Homo sapiens: one gene and its partners. The protein of the gene in region 2 purifies or fractionates together with the protein of the main gene of each other region. This does not show direct contact. Each region holds a gene or a part of one and is shown on either strand. Other genes may lie near its edges.

Region 1 (3,288 bases), on a different chromosome or scaffold from region 2:
TAGCACTTAGAAGGGCATGTGGGCTCAGTAGATGCTGAATGACCCTCATTTTGGGTTGAATCTCAGAATCACAGGGAAGGCACATTAAAGAGTGCACAGACCACACACATGCACCCACACCAAGGTCCCCACACACCTCCCTGGCCACTCCAAGTCACACAGCAAACTGCTAAGCAGAGCCCCTGAGCATGGGAGTGTCCCTCAGAGCCCACCAGGAAATAAGCCCATCTCAAGGACAGGAAACAATAAATACCAGAAAGTGGCCACACTGATGTGGGGAGAGTTGAGAAGTCAGCCAGGAGCCTGGGCAACCCACAAGCCAGTGAAGACCCAAGACCCAGCTGCCCCTGAGCTGGGGACCTAGGCCTGCCCAAGTAGCTGCTGCCAGACTCACCCGAGACAGACAGAGGGGCCACCCTGGATTCTCCCCTCCACTATAAGGTGCAACCGAGAAGGAAGCTAAGAGACACGGAGTCTAGGAATGTCAGTGTGAGGCCAGGAATGAATGCAAGGCTGACAAGCCATGGACAGAAACAATAGGACAAGCTGTCTTGAGCCCAGGTGTCCCGTTTCCCATCCCTAGGTACTTGGATCAAGACACTAGCATTGTGGACAATGGGTGGGAGGATTACTGTCGTGTGATTAAGCTGGTGTGGATGGTTTTGGGAATGTGTGTGACTATAATTTGGAAACTGTGTATATGCCTGTTTAGGTACGCATTATTTCTCAAACACCCCTGCTGTCTGCTTCATTGGTTTTCAGTCATCTCTCATTGCAAGTGGTGCATGGAATTTTTTTAATGTATCAGGAAATTAGTTTCCTGGCACTATTGTCAGATTTCTTGTTTAGTGACATGAAATCTGACTACCATTAGAATTTTAAAGTCTGAAAAATTTCCCTAGAAATAGTACAAAAATTTGGTAGAATGTTCTTGAAGAAACCCCAAATCAGGCTAACATCATTGAAAATGCTCCAATGAAACTTCAAAAGGAAGAACATCTCCCATGCGGTTAATCCAAGATTCTCTGTCTCTTAATCGCGATCTGATTTTCTAGATTCTTGTGTAAAGTGTGCTCAAAGTCCACACAACAGGGGATTTTGGACAATGCTTTTAATGGCAAGTCATCACAGCAGGTCTGCGGAGGTGCAGGGCAGCGCTCAGGCCTTGCTCAGTTTCTTCTTGATGAAGTAGCTCACCAGCCGCTGCGGCCTCTGCTGGTACTCGCTGAGCACATTGCGAGGGCTGCTGATCTGGTCCCCTTCCAGGCGGTTCAGGAGGGTGACACACACCACGGCCGCTGCAAAGGACAAAGACCACATCAAGGCAAGGTGCCGGGGGTCTAACATTTCACAGGGACGGGATGAAGAACCCACGAGCTCTGAGGAGCAGCCTCTCTGCCTCCTCAGGAAACCAGGCTGCCCATGCAGTCAGGCGGGGCCGGAGGATGGAGTGCGGGAGGGAAAGGCGCTGGTCCAGGGGCTCGGAAGACTCCTCCCTCTCTGACACCACCCTGCCCTGTCCCTCCCTTATTCTCGTGCCTGCTTCCAAAAGGAATTCACCATTCCAGGACCAGCTCAGGGCTGCAAGCACCACCTTGAAAGGCACGTTTTGGCCGAGGTGATAAGGGAATTCTGCAGAGCTGTGAGCTGGCCTTCAAGGGTGGCTAGTACCTTGAGGGTAGATGAACCACAATTCAGAAAGCCAAAGCGCTTTGAAAGCCGAGTTTTTTATAGACCTGGTGGCAGCCTCATGGGGCAGCAAAAGCTTTTTTGTCATTTTTCCTGCACAAGGTCACTGAGAATCCTGCATTTTGTCAGGGTGTGACAGTCAGACATTGAACAGCATTGTGGTGACAACACATATGTCAGAAAGTGACTTGGGGGCAGCGGAAACAGAAACCAGAAATGGGTATCGGGGTGCCCCAGGAGGAGGGGCCCCAGCGAGGGGCTCCAGGAGAGCAGAAGTGAAGGGAGGAGGGGACGCCGAGGCCCATCAAGTGCCGCTTACCTTGGAGGCCGCAGGCGCTGCACATGGCGGCAAACACCGAGGACTCCATCTCGATATTGCGGACGCCGGCTGCATAGGCTGCCTCCAGATACGCCTGCTTGTCCTTCTCCGTGTAGGAGCAGAGAGCCCCATCCAGACGGCCTTGCCCTGAGGCACACATGGAGACATGAGAACCACATGCATGTGAGAAGCTCCTACAACACATCAGCGCCACTGATGCCCAGAAGGACACAGGGACAAGCAAGACCCATCCAGGTCCTGCCTATAATGACCACTCAAACGGGTCATTATAACCACTCTGGGCGAAGTGTAACTGAGACAGCAGCCTGGCAAGTGGAAACGCCAGTCCACAGCGAGAAGGCAGGCTCAGGGGACGGACCAGGGTTCCCTGGCTGAAAGATGCCTCCTCGTATCCGCTGCCTCACCTTCATAGAAGTCCAAGGTGCACATGGTGTTCCCCACCACTGTGGTGAACTCGCTCAGCTCTGCAGAACACAGCAACAGCTCCTGCACCAGCTTCTTGTTAAGGTCCGTTTTCCGGATGACCCGCTTCCCCAGGACAATCTGCTCAAACTCTGCCTTGAAGCAGGTATCCACTGCCTGCTCTGTTATGACCACAGTGCCGGGCTCCAGACCTGAGGAAAAAAGCAGACATCAAGATATGCAGGGTGTAAAACAAAATAAAATTAAAGCAGGGCAGCCAGGGAGCACACAGCAGAGCATATGGAAGAAAGAAGCAGATCCACCCACACATCCAAACACGAAGCATCCAGTACTGTTCTCAAATACACAGTGACCCATTTTTCCCATTCAACTTTTTTTTAAGCTATGAAAGTAATTAATGCATGATCATTATGGACACTATGGAAGAGAAAGGCACAAAAAACAAAGTAGAGGGCTGGGTGCAGTGGCCCACGCCTGTAATCCCAAGCACTTTGGGAGGCCAAGACGAGCAGATCACCTGAGGTCAGGAGTTCAAGACCAGCCTGGCCAACATGGTGAGACCCCATCTCTACTAAAAATACAAAAATTAGCCAGGCATTGTGCCGGGTGTCTGTAATCCCAGCTACTTGGGAGACTGAGGCGGGAGAATCACTTGAACCCAGGAGGCAGAGGTTGCAGTGAGCCAAGATCACGCCACTGCACTCCAGCATGGGCAAAAAGAGCAAACTCCATTTCGAAAGAAAAAAAAAAGAATAAAATAAAAATGGCCAGGAACCTTCAAGTACTTTGTCCCATATTTCTTGCTTCCATTCACGGCGATTTCCCACTGTTGTCTG
Region 2 (3,816 bases):
AGGTACCATTATTGTCCCTGTTTTATAGTTAAGGAACTTAAGATTCAAAGAGGTTAAAGTCACTTGTCGAAGTTCACAGAGGTAGGAGTTATTGGGGTTAGGATTCAGGTCCAGGGCAGTTTTCCCCCCAGAGCCCATAGAGGTAGAACAAGAAGCAGCTTTTGGGCTACAGAGCAGCTTCACTGTGATTTACCTCCTCCTCCTACTTTCTGCACGACCAGTTTCCTCTCTCCAGTGACAAAACAGCTGAAGCCACCAGATCTACAGAAGGAAGGGGGCTGAAGGCCCAGGCTGAGGGCAGTTAGGAGGACTACGTGACAGGGTGTGGACGTGCACTGTGTGTGCGTGCGTGCGTTTGTGTGCATGTGTGTTTGTGTGTGTGCACGTGTGTGTGTGTGTGTGCTGGGAGAAGGACAAAGCTTCCTCCAGTGCTAAAGCCTTCAGCAATTGTATGAAAAGCATGTGTTGCAAAACAATCCAGCATCAGGCGTTTGCAGGGCTTTAAGTAAAAGCTGCCCAAGCACGGGTGTGTTTGTTTTTTCCCTAGCTCTGATACCCTTTTGATCTGGTTTCCTTTTTTCTTTGGGCTTTATCTGGAGACGTGTGAAGAATTGGAGGCCGCGCTGGCTGTGTGTTTTGGCGGTGCTACTCTGGTTAGCCATGTGTGCCGGAGCTCTGGGGACTTCTGGGGGGTGAGCCACGTGGCAGCTCCTTAGGGCTCCTTCTTAGCGAGTCTCCCAGCAGATCTGCCAGAGCAGCAGGTCGGCAGCAGGAGCCCAGGTCCAGCGTTGCAGGGGTGGGGAAAACCATTTCCTGGCTGGAGAAGGCTGCTGCTGGGCTGGGTGGGCAAGTCCTGACACATTAGCGATCAGCCAACTGTTTTATTACCAGGTCTCCCATGGAGAAAACACTTCGTAAATCGAGGAGCTGTTACAAAAGTCGAATGGCAGCATCATTAGTGCCCAGCTTTCTGGAAATGTGGATTTCCTGACAGTTTTCTCACCTTCTCATCTTATAGATTTCCTGTCAGCCTGGATCATAGCCATGACAGCCTCCCCGTTCCCTGGCCTCTCTGTGCATGCACCTGTGCATGTGTGTATAAAGACAGAATTATTTAGACAAATGGCTTTCAGAAGTTCCGTCACAGATATACCCCATGTTCGTTTACAGTGAGTTTCACCCAACATTTGAGTCTATTTACTGAGAAATGGTTGGGAAGGAGCTGAAGAGCCACTGCAAATGATTGTAGATGGATGTGGTAACTTTTTGGGGTGAAAGATTTAGCAGCTCAGATGATAAGGTTAGATTAAGATAGCATTTAAAATGACATCTGCAAAGAGAGGCAGTTTTAATTAAGAGAATCTACTTCCAAACTCCCTACTCATGGGGAAACTAAGGCTCATGTACAGCGGCAGAATGAGGGTGATCAGTCTTCTTTCTATTTATTGACAGAAGACTCTATTTAATAAAGAGTGTATGGGCTGCCTATAATTCCAGCACTTTGGGAGGCCGAGGCAGAAGGATCACTTGAGCCCAAGAATTCAAGACTAGCCTGGGCAACAAAGCAAGACCCCGTGTCTACCAAAAAAAAAAAAAAAAAAGGCTCACACCTGTAATTCCCAGCACTTTGGGAGGCTGAGGCGGGTGGATCAGGAAGTCAGGAGATCGAGACCATCCTGGCTAACACGGTGAAACCCCCATCTCTACTAAAAATACAAAAAATTAGCCAGGCGTGGTGGCAGGTGCCTGTAGTCTCAGCTACTCGGGAGGCTGAGGCAGGAGAATCGCTTGAACCCCAGAGGCAGAGGTTGTAGTGAGCTGAGATCGCGCCACTGCACTCCAGCCTGGGTGACAGAGTGATGAGACTCTGTCTCAAAAACAAACAAACAAAAAATTAGTCCATTGAGGTGGTGTGTGCCTGTAGTCCCAGCTACTTGGGAAGTTGAGGTGGGAGGATCACTTGCTCAAGCCCAGGAGGTTGAGGCTGTAGTGAGCTATGACTGTGCTACTGCACTACAACCTGTGTGACAGAGCAAGACACCTTGTATTAAAAGAAAAAAAAATTTTTTAAAGAAAAAAAAAAAAGAATGGTAAAAGCCCCTGGATAAAACTGACCGGGGGAAGAAGGTAGAAGACAGAAGATGGTGAGTTTGTTGTCAATTTGGGCTTCATCTCAGCCCCAGCCCACCATTCTCTAGGCCATGGTTTTCTTATCTTTCACTGAGTGATTTTTTTTTTTTTTTTTTTTTTTTTTTGGCAAACCTCTGTGCATGAGGTAGGTGGAAATGGTTAACCATGGCTGGGTCCTCAGCCTGGCCTGGGCTCCATGCTGCAGAGGGGGCATGGGTGGGAGCTGGGAGCAGTGAGCTGATGCCTGATCAGTGGGTCGCTGGACTTCTGAACGCAGGTAAGTGCATGCAAGGAGGCAGCGTGCAGCCCAGCCCTCTCGGGGCCCAGATTGCTTCTTGTTAACAGTGAGCTCTCCAGGAGTGCCCTGCTTTTTTAAAAAATTCACACTGAAATTTTGTTTGGAGCAAATGTTGCTTGAAACAAGAAGGCTGTTGGCCTCCATGGACAGCCTTTTGTTTCAAAGAGCATTGTGTCATTGCCAAGTTTGACCATTGTAAGATGTCAGAATGTAACTTGTCTTTTCCGAAGCCGCTGCTGATCTGCTCTTGGTCAAGCCTCTCAGGATTCCAGCTTGAGAATCATCTAGAGTAATTGTGGAGCCTGTGGGAGCTAGGTCCACCCCATGAAGGGCGGGTGTGTGCTGGCTCCTACACCGTTTTTTGATTCTTGTTTTCCCTTCTCTTACAGTATTAAGGGACATCAGCGAGAGAGGCAGGGATCTTGAGCAGATTTTATCTCAGTACATTACGTTCGTCAAGCCTGCCTTTGAGGAATTCTGCTTGCCAGTGAGTTGTGTTCTTGGTTTGTTTTTGTTGAATGTAGAATTTAAAATTTGATGATATAAACGAAGGTGTGCAAGTTTGTGGAGCTCCCCTGCCTGAATCTCACTCCTCTCTCTGAGTGATCCTCTGTCCTGAAGTCCTAAGAGAGGGCAGCCCTTGGTCCTTGTGTCCTCTGTGTTCTCCAGGAGCCCTGTCCTGCTGTTCTTTCTTTGGGTAGCCCTGTAGGGTCCTGCCAGTCCTTAGGCAGGTCATTTAATTCCCAGCTAGTTCTAGGTTTCTTGCTTGGTGGGGTCATGGTGTGAGACCGTTTACTGAGGGTGTATCATATCCAAGGAGAGTCCTCAGCCATTTGGATCTCTGAAGGGTCTGCAATGGGTGACGTATGGATGCACTGGGTGCTGTGCCCCGAGATGTTCCCCTCTGAGCCTCTCCTGCCATCACCACTGAGCCCTGCTTTGAGCTTGTCTTTAGCTCCCATTTGGAGACTGTCATGCCTTACTGGAATAAGCTTCCTTCCCTTCACCCTTGCAGACTCACCAGTCCTTCCTGTGGCAGCTAGGAATTCTCTAGTGAGGTGGCTTTCAGAGAAGGAAGAACACAGAGAGTTGGCCCTCAGCCCAGGAAAGACAGGAAGGGGCATGTTGAGGGAAGGCTACCAGAGACAAGAGGTGTGGTGTGCTGGGGCTGCAGAAGGAGAAGTATTTAACTCAGGAGAATCCTACTGAGTCAATGAGTCTTCTCCAGCTTGGCCAAACCATGGTCTGGCTCCTGAATTATTTATAGTTAAGCTCTGAGACCGGGAGGAAGGGAAGGAAGAGCTTGGGACTTAACCTGGTCTTGGTTGAGATACACTGGGAAGGCTGGAATCTCTGAAGACATTGAAGATTTAGAGTAAGGCTGGGTA
Region 3 (3,500 bases), on a different chromosome or scaffold from region 2:
GTAGAGCCAGGTTTTCACCATGTTGGTCTGTTGGTCAGGCTGATCTCGAACTCCTGACCTCAAGTGATCTGCCTGCCTCGGCCTCCCAAAGTGCTGGGATTACAGGCGTGAGCCACCGCGCCCAGCCCATCCTTTTACTTCATGTGTTGGTGGCTTCCTCTGTAAAATGGGGATGCTAATAACAGTGATGACCTCACAAGGCTGTGTTAAAGCACAGAGTTAGGGCTCAGTAAGTGTCAGATGCTACTGTCACTTCAGCTTGGCCTTCCCTGTCCCCGTTCCAGAGTCAATCTTGTGTCTAGTTTTCCTGGATAAATTATAGCTACAGTACAGTTCTTGGCATTCAATCTACCCACATACAAAAATAGTATGTTGTGGGTTTGCTGTGAGAACTGTAAAGGTGCCTCTTACCTTTGAAGTAGATGCAGTTGAGAATCATCATCTGGGTAGCAGGGTCTATATTCTCCAGAGCATCTTTTATGAGGCCCTTGGTGAGCTTCATGATGTGGTTGTTGGTTTTTGATATGAAGGCAGGGTCTGAGAAGTCAGCTATCTGGGCCTCAGCAAAGTAATACTCTCTTACTTTAGTTTTGAAGTCAAGCAGGATTGGAAACTGCTTCTGGATATAAAGGTCATTGACTGACCGCAGTGTGTACCCAAAATTCCTCCTGAAGAGGCGATGAGTCAGCTTACGGAAGAGATTATGAATGGTCGTGATTTCATACTTGCTGCTGGCATTAACAAAGTCTTTAAAATGCAAAATCGAGTGCACTTGTTCATGGGTCTCTCCCTTCAGACCTAAGGAAATCATACCCATCGCAGTAGAAATGCCAACGGGTGCTATGAAGATGTTATCGAAAGTGTTGACCTGGTCTTTCAGCACTCGGTAGAGGTTGAAAGCGAACTTGGCGTTGAGGATGTTAAGACGCTGGATCCGGCTCTTGCCATGAAAAAGCTGGAGGATGTTCCCAGCACTCACATCAGAGTCTGTCGGGGAAACTGACAGACTGTCGACGATGTCGATGTAGTCGTCGTCTTCACTGAATATCTTCTCCAGGTCCAGATAGTCGTCGTCCTCCTCCCCCTCTGGAATCCAGTCGTTGGTGACGGTGTTTTCCTTGTGGAAGTCGGCAGGGAGAAGAGGCATGCTCAGGTTTTTGTTATTTAACTGCTCCCACTGGGGATCTGCAGACTGAGCAGTTTCCCCTCCTTTCTCTAGCTGATCCAGCGGGCCTTTGCTCCCACCCCACGCAGATGTTATGATGAGGAAAATGAGAAGTGCGTTTAATGAGTGTTTCATTTTGGCGGAGCTAAAGCTGGGAGGGAAAACAGAACACAGTGAAAGGCGGCCTGGCTGATCCACACCCCGCTGCAGCATCCACATGGCAGGTTCCCTGTGGCTTTGACCCAGGAAGAGGCCCTCACAGCATTAGTTCTTAACTGTTTTAGGATCATGGACTTTAAGAGAATCTGATGTAGATAGACACCCAACCTTTGATGTGGGACTCATAAACCTCAATGAAGGATCTGTGGGCCCCTTGATGAAAATCCCTTCTTTAAAGGTTTGCAAAACTAACCTTCTAGAATCCTGGGAGCTCAGGCATCCCAGGGAGGAGTTTGTTTTTCTCCAGACACCTTGTCCACCACCTCCAGACAGTGTTTAGTTACCAGAGACAAAGTTCCCACCAGGGGCTCATGGACCAGTCAGGGGACAGATGGGACAGACGTGCAGTAAAGCGAAGGCTCTCAAAATAATGCTGCCAGAGCACATGGGGGTACGGAAAGGGGTGTGGCTCTACCCTGTGTGGTAGGAGTGGAAGTGCCCAGAGAGTCAGGGAAACCTCACTAAGAGCTGGGCTTGAGTGGGCACCTGGGGCTGGTGATTGGAGAGTACCTAGAAGGGATGTGCATTAGTGGGACTCAGCCATGCCTGTGTGACTCACACCATTCCACCTTTGCAATGGAGATGCTGTTGAAAAATGTCCATGGGCCAGGCTTTCTGAAAACATATTCTAAAGATACTTGAAATTTGTGCAATCTTTGGGGTTGTTTAATTCGTTGTTTTTTTGTTGTTGTTGTTGTAATTGGCTTTTGTTGTTTTTATTTTTTGAAATGGAGTCTCACTCTGTCACCCAGGCTGGAGTGCAGTGGCGCGATCTCGGCTTACTGCAACTTCGGCCTCCTGGACTCAAGCAATTCTCTTGCCTCAGCCTCCCAAGTAGCTGGGACTACAGGTGCACACCACTACGCCTGGTTAATTTTTGTATTTTGTTTAGTAGAGATGGGGTTTTGCTCTGTTGGCCAGGCTGGTCTCAAACTCCTGACCTCAGGTGATCCACCCACCTCAGCCCCCCAAAGTGCTGGGATTACAGGCATAAGCCACCACGCCTGACCTGGGGTTGTTTAATTTGCAAAAGATTTGGAACTTGTCTAGTGCTGAGACCCCCTCAGGGCGTAGTGAGGTGATGTGGTGGCAGCCCCAGAGGTGATATCACTTGCTGCAGGTATACTTTTTTCTCCTTTGTATCTCTTAGACAATAGCTCCCACTGCTGTCAGGAGCAACTAAATCTTCTGTGTTACTGCTTCTAACACAGGGTTAGAAACAAGAGATAAAGTCTGTGTGAGGGTGATGTCAGCAAGCTCTTACTCAAGACCTGAGGGGCACTCCCTTTATTTAAGTAAACAAGATAAGCTTTTAGCACAGAGGCATTATGGCAATCCTGTCTTTATTTGTTCCTCTGACTCGTTCAGAGGAGGATCTGACTTGGCCTGTCAAATCTGTTTTGACTGCCAAATCCTTTGTCTTTCTCTTGCTTACTTCCTGGTTATTAACTGCACTCTGGTTAGATGAGCTTTGATGATTCCATGTTTTGCCAGGACAGTGACCATAGGTGTTTATAATGCTGACTCAGACAGGTAATACATGGTCCCAACTTCTAATCACCCCAGAAAGAACTGCCGGCCAGGCGCTGTGGCTTACGCCTATAATCCCAACACTGGGAGACCAAGGCAGGAAGATCACTTGAGCCCAGGAGCTCAAGACCAGTGTGGGCAACATAGCAAGACCTCATCTCTGTGAAAAATTAAATAAATAGGCTGGGTGCGGTGGCTCAGGTCAGTAATCCCAGCACTTTGGGAGGCCGAGGTGGGCGGATCATCTGAGGTCGGGAGTTCGAGACCAGCCTGGCCAACATGGAGAAACCCTGTCTCTACAAAAAATACAAAAAAATTAGCCGGCGTGGTGGCGCATGCCTGTAATCCCAGATACTTAGGAGGCTGAGGCAGGAGATTCGTTTGAATTCAGGAGGCAGAGGTTGTGGTGAGCCAAGATCGCACCATTGCACTCCAGCCTGGGCAAAAAGAGCGAAACTCCGTCTCAAAAAAAAAAAAAAGAAAAGAAAAATAATTAGCCTGGTGTGATGGCACACGCCTGTGGTCCCATCTACTTGAGAGGCTGAAGTAGGAGGATCACTTGAGTCTGCAGTGAGCCGTGATCACG
Region 4 (3,816 bases), on a different chromosome or scaffold from region 2:
GCAACAGTGCCATCTCCTGGACAACCAGCAAAGGTACCCAGGGGAGGAGAAGGAAGGATTTGTGCCAGAATGCTGGAGCGTTGCTGAATTTCACTTCTTACTCCCAGGTGGATTTGGAAATACCAAGAGATTTCTACAACTAAATCTTCTTAATCAACATAACAATGATATTTGCTAATATCATTAAAAACAAATGTTATGTCACAACACTTGACTCTTTAAAAATCAACTGTTTAGAATATTCCACAAAATAATACTTTTCTTCTCTTTCATAGCAGATAAACCTAAAAGTTTGATGCAAGTAAACTTTAGTGGTATGGAAACTTCCCATCCCTTTGACTGAAATTGCAGTATTAGGGCTGCCCAAGTCTGTGAGGCTTTCTTGGAACGCAGCACCACCACCACCACATATGCCTGTGCATGCACACACACACATACACATGCACACACACACACGACTTTAGTCACCAAACTAGCCTAAAGGTTATATTTTTCATCAAAAGGGGCAGAAGCTGGTATAGTAGAAATATTCATTGAAAGAGAGAAAATGATTCAGAGACTGCAAAATGTTTTATTTATGGTTGACAAAGGATGTTAGAAATAGGAATTTTTTGTACTTGGAAAGCTCCTTAGAATTACTTAATCCAACCCATTTATTTAACAGACTAGAAAACTTAAGTGAATTTTGTTTTTCTAATTAGAAATGTTAAATGTGAGAGTGGTCAACTCAAGAAGCTGAAATTTTCCTTCTCTGCCTAATTTAATGAGGTGAACCAAATGACCCTTAGGGGGCCAACTCTAATATCAGCGCTGCTGGAATTTTTTATAGCTACTTCAAGTATTAGTCTGTACAGACTTATTATTATTATTGTTATTATTATGCTAGTAACTAGTATTTATTAAGCACTTAACCATGTGAAACATTCTGGGCTAAATGCTTTTCATATATTGCCTCATTGAACCTTCCAAGTAATCCTTTGCAGTGGGTGCAGTTTTTAATCCTAATTTTATGGATGAAGAAATTTGTACTCAGAGAGGTTAATAATTGGCCAAAAGTACAACCAGCTAGTTGTCACGAGTGCAACTAGCTGGGGCCGGTGTCACAGGTGGTAAAGTAATTTACCAAGACAGTTGTAGGTAAAGAAAGGCAGATTTATTAGAGAAAGTATGTATGAAAATGCGTTGCAAAGTTGCAACCGGCAGCACAGCAGAGAAGGGGCTGTGTAGAGGCAGGGTGCAACTGCAGCGAAGTTTTATAGAGTTGTGCTGGGGGGAGCTGCTGTGCTGAAGGAGGTCATTGTGCGCACAGAACAAGGTCATTGTGCCAGGAAGAAGTCATTGCTTGTGATTTCCCATTTCTCAGAACAACTGTTCATTGTTCTTCCCCACCTGGGGCTCTCTCCCACTGGGGACCCCTTCCTCATTGTTGAACCAAGGTTTGAAAACAGACAGACTGGCTTCGAAATTCCTTATCACTGTTCTATTCCACCTCATATTACTTTTCTGAAGGAAAATTTTTCTGTAGTTTACTCTCTTTTACTATATGAAAACCAGAAAGTACTAGAAAGATAACATTGCATTTTGTTAGCTTTAAAAAAAATCCGTTTACCATGTATTGTTCCTTTATGCCCTTATTTATGGCATCTCCTGATCATATGGAACATATTTGAGAAAGCCAAAACTCCTACAAGCATGCTCAATATCCTATACAAACTCAGTCCCCAAGGAAGGTACCCAAGAGTACATTGCTCTGTAAACTCTGAGACTGTATTCCTAACTTGTAGAAGGCAGAATTGTAACCAAAGATGGTCTTTCATGAAGCCATCTGTGTTTATCAGTATTCTGCCCTAGAGAAGTTCTGGGTCAGGTCTTATTTCAGGTCAGCTCGTCTTTGCTCTGGAGTGAAATGGAACGAATGAGAATGTCTTCCCAGAAGCCATGTGCAGGGTCACTTCAGATGCTGGAGAATTTCCAGTAAGGAAGAGAATCAAAGGGTCAGGATGAAATTCTTACAGGCCAACTTGGAACAAACCACATCCTTTTTTAATGTACTTGGACATTTACGATTGATCTTTGACCTGTTGGTGCAACTAGATATGCTACATGGTTTCCTTTTCTGAATAGGAGTTCCTTATTTTTATACTTGAATTGTGTCGCCAGTGTAACTTTTCCAGGAAATATATAAAGTACAATTATTTGGCTACTTTTTTATTTTAGATTTTGTGATTTATTCAATAAATTAGAGACCAGAAACATCAACTCCTGGGAACTTTGAAATATATTTTTAATGTGAAAATACAATGTATTAGTTTCCAAGAGCTGCCCTAACAAAATACCACACACTGGGTAGCTTAAAACAACTGAAATTTATTCTCCCACACCTCTGGAGACTGGAAGTCCAAAATTAAAGTGTCTAGGGTTGGTTTCTTCCAGAGACTTTGGAGGAGAATCTGCCTCAGACCTCTCTCCTACCTTCTGGTGATGGCTGGAAGTTCTTGGCTTGTAGACCTATCACTCTAGTCTCTGCCTTCACCTTCACATGGCATTTTCTCTGTGTCTCTGTGTTGCAGGAAAATCTGGGTTCTTGTCACATGACCAGGTTAATTTAGGCACGCAGACACTTTGAAGGGTGAGTGGTTACAGAATTTATTTGGCAAAAAGGAAAAAGACTCTCAGCAAAGTAAGAGGGGTTCCTGTTAACAGGCCCCCATCTTACAGACTGGATCCCAGGTTACCACCCAGGAAAAGGAGAGGCCAGGCTGCTCCCCACTGCAAACGGCAGGAACTTCCATAGCTCCATCCCATTCTCCCAGTGCACAGGCTGGTTAGAGGGTCTCTGGGGACCCGATTATACTTGGCTGTCTCATTTGTGTCTCCACATGGTCATCTTATAAGAACACCAGTCATACTGCAATAGGGAACAACCTTACTCTAGTATGATTTTAACATAACTTAAGTAATTACATCTGCAGCAACCTTATTTCCAAATAAATTCACGTGCTGAGGTATTGGAGGTTGGAACTTGAACGTATCTTTGTGTGTGTGTGTTTTGGGGGGTGGCGCACAATTCGACCCATAACACATAACATACGTTACATAGTATATAAAATATATATGTACAGTTTTTTTTAATTATTGTAAAGCCATCACCTTCTAATCACATCCTTGGTCAAGAAATTAGACACTCTTAGCCCCAGAAAATCCTTCCATTTTCCAATTTTTGAACTTTGAATAAATGGAATCATAAACACAAATTCTTTTGACTTGCTTCTTTCACTCAATATTGTATTGGTGAAAATAATCTGTCTTGTGCTGTTTAGTTCTCATTTGTTCATTTTATTATGTCTGTCTTTTAGCACGAGTAATCCACAATTTATCCATTCAACTGTAGATGGGCATTGCCCGTGTCAGGCTATCCCAAGCACTGATGCCATGGGCATTCTTGCACATTCTTGTACTCTGGTGCTCACGTGCAGGGATTTCTCTGGGCTCTACATCTATGAGTGGAATTGCTGGGTCACTGGGTATGCATATCTTCAACTTCATTAAGTACTGTCAAATAAGCAGTTGTACCAGCTTACACTCCGATAAGCCATGGGTGAGGGTTTCTCATTGTATTACATCCTTATCAACATTGGTATTTTCCGTCTATTTAATTTTAGCCAATTTCTTGGTTGCAGAGTGATATCTCATTGCATTTGAATGGTTTCCCTAATTACCAATGAAGTTAGACACGTTAATATTTTTACTGACCAACAATGCTTTTATATTACTCTTATAAGCATTTCCATGTAATTATATAGTCATTTTAAACAT
Region 5 (3,816 bases), on a different chromosome or scaffold from region 2:
TCTGGTCCCCCCTATTATTCTCCACCTTGGAAACACCCATAGTCTAAGCGTGTGGCCCAGGTGTGACTGGCAGGAGGTGGGTCAGGCATGCAGGTGTGCTGAGTGGTGAGGGACAAGTGAACCAGAAAACAGCAAAGCAGGGAAGCACCAAAAGGATGCAGGCCAGGGGCCGTACAGTTAGCAACCTGCAACTCTGCCAGACCTGCAGAATGGCAAGGGGAGCCGCCAGAGGACTAGCACCCTCCCTAAAAAGATGGGCCAACCAGACAGTGGAGGACAAGGGGAGGCAAGGCAGAGGACAGGCAAACGGTCACCTGAGAAGGACCTAGAGTACCATACTGAGTTCTACCCCAGCCTCAGCAGCCTTCTACCATCTGTCCTCAGTGAAAGCCATGCTGTGCCACTGTACCACTCAAAGGTTGCGTTCCTGCTTCTACAGGGGTGGACTGAGCACTTATTTTTATCATGATCAATTGGTATATTATAAATAAGAGACAAAAGTATACCATTCACTCAAAATAGTGACAGATTTTTCCTAACATATTATCATTCTTAACATTACAAAAGCCCATCTCCTTGCCCATGGGAATTCCTGCAGCACAGGCGGTCATCAACACATTAGTCTGCTTTGTCTGTACTAAAACCTCTTCAAAATACATATGTGAAGCCTTTGCCCCCAGCCTCATGAGAAGACCTGCTCATAGGGAGGAGTCCACAAAAATGAGCTCTGTGCAAGGGATTCCTTTGTTTGCCCAGCCCCAGCAGTGGAGCATCAGTTTCCTTCTGTAAATATCAGCTTTTAAAAAATACTGGTTTTCAGGAAATAAATGACTAGTGCATAGAAGCAGGTGTCTTTACACGGAGAATCGACAGGCTGTAATTTAGCTAAGCTGCCTGCAGCCTCCTTCTAAGATTCTGGAAATTTAGGTTGAGGAACTACAGTCTACCAGAGGAAGAAGAACCCTTCCTAGTGGAAAAGCGGTTTTAAATGTAGGCACAAGGTTCGTGTGACTTACCAATTGCAAAACCAACTCCAAAGTTCGGAGCTATGAGTCCATAAATGTTTTTTGCAAATGGAATCTGTAAGAGGAAATAAACATTATGCTAAAATAACAAGAGATCCAACTCTAAATCATCTCGGAAAGTCTTGAACTTGTGTTTTCTCTGAGCGTGGTATGCCTGTTCCCTTCTGAAGAAAACAGGAGGAAGAAGGGTGGGGTTTGTGAAGAACCGGACCCTCCAAATCTTTAAAAGTCAAAGCTTGAAACGAGTTTTATGACCACCATGAAAAACTTGTCACCGGCATATGTGAAAGATCAGCCTAGTCCACCCTCAAGTTTTGACAAGAACAAGTAGGCCTCATGAGGGATGGATATTGGCCATTGGTAGAAGAGATTTTATTCTAGAAAAACATCTTGCTATTGTTTCAGGTTGGTTGTCCTGAAGTGTTTAAGACACTGTCAAGCTTAAGATGATGCAGGGGAAAAGTTAAACTGTGAAATAAAACATTTTAAATAATTTCTGACATAAAATGAAAATACACTCCTTGGAAAGTCTTGTCCAAACATTTTTAAGATGATAAAAAATTAGAATAAAATGAAAGCTGTAATAAAACATCAACAAACTCAAACGTAAAATGTTTCTTGGTGATTCTTGCCCAAAGCGCAAGTTTTATTCACAGATTGTTCCCACTTGTCAAATGCCATCTTTTACTCACACATAAAATGCTGACTCCAACAATTATCATTCCCAGAAGAGCACAAAGCCACCTACCAAAAGAAAAAGCACCATCAAGAAATGATCATTTGATTTTTTTCTAGTCCAAATTTTCAATGAAAATCAAAACAATTACTTGTAACAGCAAAGGCAGAAACAACTTAGAATTTTTTGAAAGAACTACATTATTGTAACAGAATGAGTGTTGTTTTCATATCATCTTACCTCCCCATTTTGTGTGCAAGTATCCCAAAAATATTGGTTCCAATGAGATAAGAGATACTAGCTGGCAAGAAGGCAACGCCTGTAAATTTATGAAAAGGAGACCTTATCAGTGCTGATATCAGTCATATGTTAGAAAAAGTAATAACTGTAGACACCACAATGTTGATGAGAGCAGATAAAACGAAGCCCCGGGGCCCACACCCCAGCAGCTAATATCCGGCGCCTGCCGGATCCGGTCTGGACCCACGTGGCTTATCCTCCACACAAAGCTGCTGAGACACTCCAGAAATGAAAGTCCTTTCTCTATCAACTGCTTCATCTTGCCTCCATCTCTGGCTGGTGGTGGGCTTCACACGTGGGCCAATACAAACAGCTCCTGCCTGGGAGCTCAGCACCTGCAATCTTATGTGTGATTTCATCCGACAGAAGTAAGACGCAGTCATTGAAAGAATTAGGGAACCGTGAGATAAACAAAAAGAAAAATGTTAAAATTACCCCAAACCCCATCCATTACTCAGATAATCACCACAGTTATTTTCTCCTGTAAGTTTATTTACATATATAAATATATTTATGTGTGTTTTGATTTACAAAAAAAAGGGATTATACTCTATCCTGCTTGTTTCAGTTAGCTTTATGAACATTTTTCTATGTCAGAAACATAAATGTCTGCCTGGTCATTTTTTGTTGTCAAGTCAGATTTTTTTTTTTTTTTTTTTTTTGAGATGGAGTCTCGCTCTGTCACCCAGGCTGGAGTGCAGCGGCACGATCTTGGCTCACTGCAACCTCTGCCTCCCAGGTTCAAGTGATTCTCTTGCCTCAGCCTCCCAAGTAGCTGAGACGACAGGCATGCGCCACCACGCCTAGTTAATTTTTGTATTTTTAGTAGAGACTGAGTTTCAACATGTTGGCCAGGCTGGGCTCAAACTCCTGACCTCAGGTGATCCGCCTGCCTCAGCCTCCCAAAGTGCTGGGATTACAGGCGTGAGCCACCACGTCCGGCCTCCTATCCAAGTTTTATTGCTGTCCCCATAGAGGACACCTGCATCCCCCAGGTTCTGATGTGCCCAGGGTGATTCCCTGCTGGTGGTGGCAGCAGTGGCCTTGAACCTGTCCTCCGCATTGAACAGAAAGGCCTAACCATTATCAGACCCAGCTTGGCTACAGGGGAATTGTCCACATCAGCTGTGTCTGGTCCTCATCCATCCAAGCTGTGTGTGGTCCTCAGAACCACAGGACAATCTCTTTATGAGTGACTGCTTTTCAAACTCCTAGTGATTTTAGTATTTTTTCCTTGAAATCAGATATACCAGACTTGATTCCAAGCCTTGCCCACACATAGTAAAAGTTACTTTGTTCTCAATCAGAGGACTGCATAAGTGAGACATGCAGGTAGATATCAGATGACCGAGTGCCTGCTACACTCAAAATGCATGGGGCCTGGAGGTCCTTCTCATCCCAGCAGCTGGCCACACACTCACGGGCAAGTGTGATCTTGTCTCTTTAGGATAAAGCACGAACGTCTACCATCAAACCCAGAAACAGGCTGAGTCTTCCAACACAGCAGGGACTTCCAAATAAATGGCTCCATGAGCTAAATCCAAAACCAGATCATTCTAGACATGGGAGTTCTGGGAAACACTAATAAAGAGCAATCTCATTTCATTTTCCAGAGAATTATTTCTGTCATGCTTAGCAATATGTGGTGGTCAAATAATTGTTCAGTGTAATCTGATTGAGCAAACATTTACTGACAGCCACGTGCCCAGCACAGCAGTGGCCTGCAGCAAAGACAATGACAACGTGATTCTTGTCCTGACGCAAGTGTTTTGAAGGAAAGGAGCAGATGACGTTTAAACTGTGACCTGGCCAAGT
Region 6 (3,816 bases), on a different chromosome or scaffold from region 2:
CACACACACCTGGTTTACTTCTGTGTGATCCTATTTACCCCGAGAGGACCGAGCAAGCCACCGTACCTGGCTGTCCTGCATCAGGGTCCACAGGTCAAGTACGTCAGTCCCACAGTCTTGGGCCACTTGTAAACACGCATTGGCATATTCACCAACAACAGAGTTCAGGCGATTTAGTTTGCAACCTATTGAAGAGAAGAAATAGAGGTGGCAGTTGGTAAACCCAAGTGCTGGCCCTTGTGTAAGTTCTGCTCCACTCATCTAGACAGTTTCAAAATGCCATTAAATATTGACCCCACTTGGGCCAGCCCCGGGGTTTAGGGTATATGTTGATGAGCCTTGCAGGTTACTGGTGTGCTGCTCTACCCAGCAGAGGACAAGGTGCAGTGGGAAGAAGGAGCCTTCAGTGGTAACCGGAATCTTCTGAGGCGCCAGGGAGGATGTTCTAGAGGACACCTTGAACAGAGGCAGAGAGGCAGGAAAGGCCCAGGAGGGCTGGGCTGCTTGGAGAGTGCCGGCTGCAGGAGCTGGGCTGGGGGCTGGTAAGGGCTGCACTAGTAGGAAATGCCAGGCCATGGAAGCTGAACGCTGCGCTGACACCGCTGGCTTCTTACATGTAACAGCTGGACCGCAACACAGCAAAATCATTTGTCGGCTTTAGACAAAGAGACCTTCGTTTTGATGCCTACAATTTTCACTAAATAGCGGTGTGCCTGAACAGCTTAACCGTCCTGAAGCTTTCTGCATTCTTATGATGACAGTGCCTACCTAGTTGCAGGAATATTGGCAGGATTAAGAGACTAAACACCAGCAAAGCAGCTAGCACAGAACGATTGAGTGTATCTAACACAAGTGCAGGCTGCCTCATCCTCCCAGGGAGCTGCACCAGGGAAGGCTGGAGTGCAGTATCTGGGGATTGTGCTAGGTTGGTTTGGAAGGTGGGGCTGGGGCTAGGGGAGAAGGCTCAGGAGGCTGCAAACAGGACAGTGAGGGCTGGCGAGAGGCGGACTACAGAATGGTATTAAAGAGAAAGCATGAGGATATGGGCAACTGGATGCGGGCCACAGGAGGACCTATGCTGGCCCAGGCTCTACATCACAGCGAAGAAACTATTCACCAGCTTTGATTCATACTTGGGATCAATTGTTTATAAAATTCACCTAGATTATAACTAGCTACCCCATCCCTACAAAAAAATTTAAAAAATTAGCTGAGCATGGTTGCACATGCCTGTGGTTCCAGCTACTTGGGAGGCTGAGGCAAGAAGATCACCTGAGCCCAGAGGTGGAGGCTGCAGTGAGCTATGAGTAATCCACTGCCCTACACAGCCTGGGTGACACAGCAAGACCATCTCAAAAAATAACCTGCTGAATTTCTAGGGGACCAGTTATTGAGATGTGACCCCTCCTCTACCTGCTTTGCCCATCACTGACCTTTTAAAAAGTCTGCATTGGGCTACATTCAAGGCTAGAAAGGGGAAATGAAATTAAACATTCAGAATTTCATATATATTATTTTCCTGGGAAACAGTAGACAAAAAGAAGTCTAAACAGCTTCTGTGGACCATGCTATGTAACATTTTTCCCCTTTTGTTAAAGCCAAGATGACACTGCCCCCCAAAGCAGTTAGGGCTGCAGGCCCAGAAGCAAGCTGGGGCTCTGAAGTTGTCTCCAGGGGAGCTTTGTGGGCCTTAAACACCTCCCCTTCCCTGCAGAACACTCTGGTGTCTCATGCACAGCAATAGGGCCCCTCTGCCCTGATGTGATGCCCAGAACCTACTGTCACCACGTCCCGCAGGCTGGGGTTTCTCCCCGTTTGTCTGTGCCTCCGGTGTGTGGCACCCCTTGGCATATGCTGTTTGTGACTTGAGAACGCATTGGATCCTTCTCTAAGGATGACAGGCCCTTTGAGAGCAAGGGACATAGCTACAACCCCACTCAACAGTAAACTCATACAACAGTAAGGACTTGAGCTGTGAAGTCACACTTGCTGGATTTGATTCCTGGTTGTGTTGCTGGCTGTGTGATCTTGGGCCGGTTACTTAGCCTCTCTAAGACTCCATTTCTCCACTGGTAAAGTAGGGACAATAACAGCCTTCCATGAAGTTGTGGTATGTGTGCTGTGGTGTGTGTAAGAAACATCTGGAGTGCTGAAAATGGGTCCAGAAATCTACCTAAAAATCCCAGTTAACTCAGAGTCAGACCACACTTTGAGAAATAGCTGTTCTGTGTTGCAAAGCCAGTCATTTGTCCTAGAATGTTGAGTTCTGGGCAGCTTAGAAAACTTCCAGTCCAGGAACGGTGGCTCACGCCTGTAATCCCAGCACTTTGGGAGGCTGAGTCGGGCAGATTACCTGAGGTCAGGAGTTCGAGACCAGCCTGGCCAACATGGTGAAACCCGTCTCTACTAAAAATGCAAAAATTAGCCGGGCGTGGTGGTGCACACCCATAATCCCAGCTACTCAGGAGGCTGAGGCAGAATTGCTTGAGCCCAGGAGGCAAAGGTTGCAGTGAGCCGAGATCGTGCCACTGCACTCCAGCCTGGCTGACAGAGCCAGACTCTATCTCCAAAAAAAAAAAAAAAAGAGAACTTCCATAATGCACATTTTCAACATTAACATACAGCTGACCCTTGAACAACACAGGTTTGAACCGTGAAGGTCCACTTATGTGCAGAGGTTTTTCAGTCAAAGGTGGATTGAAAACACAGCACTTGAGGGATGTGAAACCCAAGTATATGGAGTGCTGGCGACTCCTATCTGATCATTCCTACCCCCAGCTTCTGTGGACCAGTAAAAAGCCCCAGGTGTGGACTTCCAAGTCAAGGCACATCAGCATCAGCCCCCGCAGGCCGAGCACCACAGCTCTACACAGATCTCAGTGGCCTTCATGTGCACCCTGGAGTCTGGTAACTGTAAAGGTCAGCAGATGCCAGGCCCGCGGTTCCCTCCTGACTATCCAAAGCCAGAATCCCTTTTCTAGGTCAAAAAAGGTCTCAGGTATAACATAATGGAAGCTATAATTTAATAATTTTGGATTGAAAACAGACTGAAATGGACATACCGAGCCCCTAAGAAACAGAAGCCCCAGGCAGGAAACCACTGTCCTATCAGAGTTCCTCCCTCAGCATTCCTATCCAGATTTGCCGAGATTGGCTGTGGTTTGTTTACCTTGTATGATGCACTGTTCTTCCCAGGCTGTTTCACAAAGTGGGGTCGGCGTGATGAGAATGACTCGATTCTCAGGGATGTCCACGGACTTCAGGTACTGCACCATGCTCTTTAGGTTCGCAGCGTACTCCTCCAGGGGAATGTGCTGCTTGGGATTCTCATCTGCTCAAGAGAAACATGAGTCCTCACCAGATGCATATTTATTATAAGTGACAATTCAGGTGAACACACTTCTGCAAATGCCTGTTATTCATGATGTCACTGGGGGGATTGTTTAACACCAAGGACACAAAGAGAAGGTTTTCTCCTTATGAATTAAAATGTATAGTTCTTCATAAAACAAGACTTCAAAGGCTCTAACTAGGGGCACCGTAAGTACTCTTGTCTTTTCGTCACTAGTATCCAGATGGTTATTACATCAATTAGGTTGAATTTGTAAAGAAATTAAAGAGCCCACCCTGTTGGGTGAGACGGCCTAGGTTCAAATCCTGGCTTTGTCACTCCTCGCCACAGAACCGCAGATAAATACTTAGACTTTCTGTACCTCATTGGGAAAATGAAGATAATAAGGTCTCCCTCCTAGGACTGAAAATCAAAACAGCTAAGAGTTTACAGCACTGAGAGCAGTGTGCCTTCACAAAGCAAGC

What was found.
Region 1: the proteins of UCK2 (region 2) and UPP1 fractionate together in Homo sapiens (co-fractionation; one large-scale study listed by BioGRID). This does not show direct contact.
Region 3: the proteins of UCK2 (region 2) and SERPIND1 purify together in Homo sapiens (co-immunoprecipitation; one large-scale study listed by IntAct). This does not show direct contact.
Region 4: the proteins of UCK2 (region 2) and ASB4 purify together in Homo sapiens (co-immunoprecipitation; one large-scale study listed by IntAct). This does not show direct contact.
Region 5: the proteins of UCK2 (region 2) and SLC18A2 purify together in Homo sapiens (co-immunoprecipitation; one large-scale study listed by IntAct). This does not show direct contact.
Region 6: the proteins of UCK2 (region 2) and IAH1 purify together in Homo sapiens (affinity purification with mass spectrometry; 2 studies listed by BioGRID and IntAct, with this or other methods). This does not show direct contact.

The regions. Positions count from the first base shown.
Region 1 is NC_000007.14:48,106,228-48,109,515, reverse strand, and holds the end of UPP1 (uridine phosphorylase 1), read right to left. Parts: intron 2,644-3,288; coding exon 2,434-2,643; intron 2,156-2,433; coding exon 2,009-2,155; intron 1,299-2,008; coding exon 1,159-1,298; 3' UTR 780-1,158; downstream 1-779. UniProt on the Homo sapiens protein: Catalyzes the reversible phosphorylytic cleavage of uridine to uracil and ribose-1-phosphate which can then be utilized as carbon and energy sources or in the rescue of pyrimidine bases for nucleotide synthesis.
Region 2 is NC_000001.11:165,900,365-165,904,180, forward strand, and holds part of UCK2 (uridine-cytidine kinase 2), read left to right. Parts: intron 1-2,817; coding exon 2,818-2,915; intron 2,916-3,816. UniProt on the Homo sapiens protein: Phosphorylates uridine and cytidine to uridine monophosphate and cytidine monophosphate. Does not phosphorylate deoxyribonucleosides or purine ribonucleosides. Can use ATP or GTP as a phosphate donor.
Region 3 is NC_000022.11:20,777,113-20,780,612, reverse strand, and holds part of SERPIND1 (heparin cofactor 2 precursor), read right to left. Parts: intron 1,317-3,500; 5' UTR 1,301-1,316; coding exon 412-1,300; intron 1-411. UniProt on the Homo sapiens protein: Thrombin inhibitor activated by the glycosaminoglycans, heparin or dermatan sulfate. In the presence of the latter, HC-II becomes the predominant thrombin inhibitor in place of antithrombin III (AT-III).
Region 4 is NC_000007.14:95,523,813-95,527,628, reverse strand, and holds part of ASB4 (ankyrin repeat and SOCS box protein 4), read right to left. Parts: intron 1-3,816.
Region 5 is NC_000010.11:117,264,937-117,268,752, reverse strand, and holds part of SLC18A2 (synaptic vesicular amine transporter), read right to left. Parts: intron 2,021-3,816; coding exon 1,942-2,020; intron 1,770-1,941; coding exon 1,718-1,769; intron 1,081-1,717; coding exon 1,017-1,080; intron 1-1,016. UniProt on the Homo sapiens protein: Electrogenic antiporter that exchanges one cationic monoamine with two intravesicular protons across the membrane of secretory and synaptic vesicles.
Region 6 is NC_000002.12:9,480,801-9,484,616, reverse strand, and holds part of IAH1 (isoamyl acetate-hydrolyzing esterase 1 homolog), read right to left. Parts: intron 3,332-3,816; coding exon 3,170-3,331; intron 186-3,169; coding exon 67-185; intron 1-66. UniProt on the Homo sapiens protein: Probable lipase.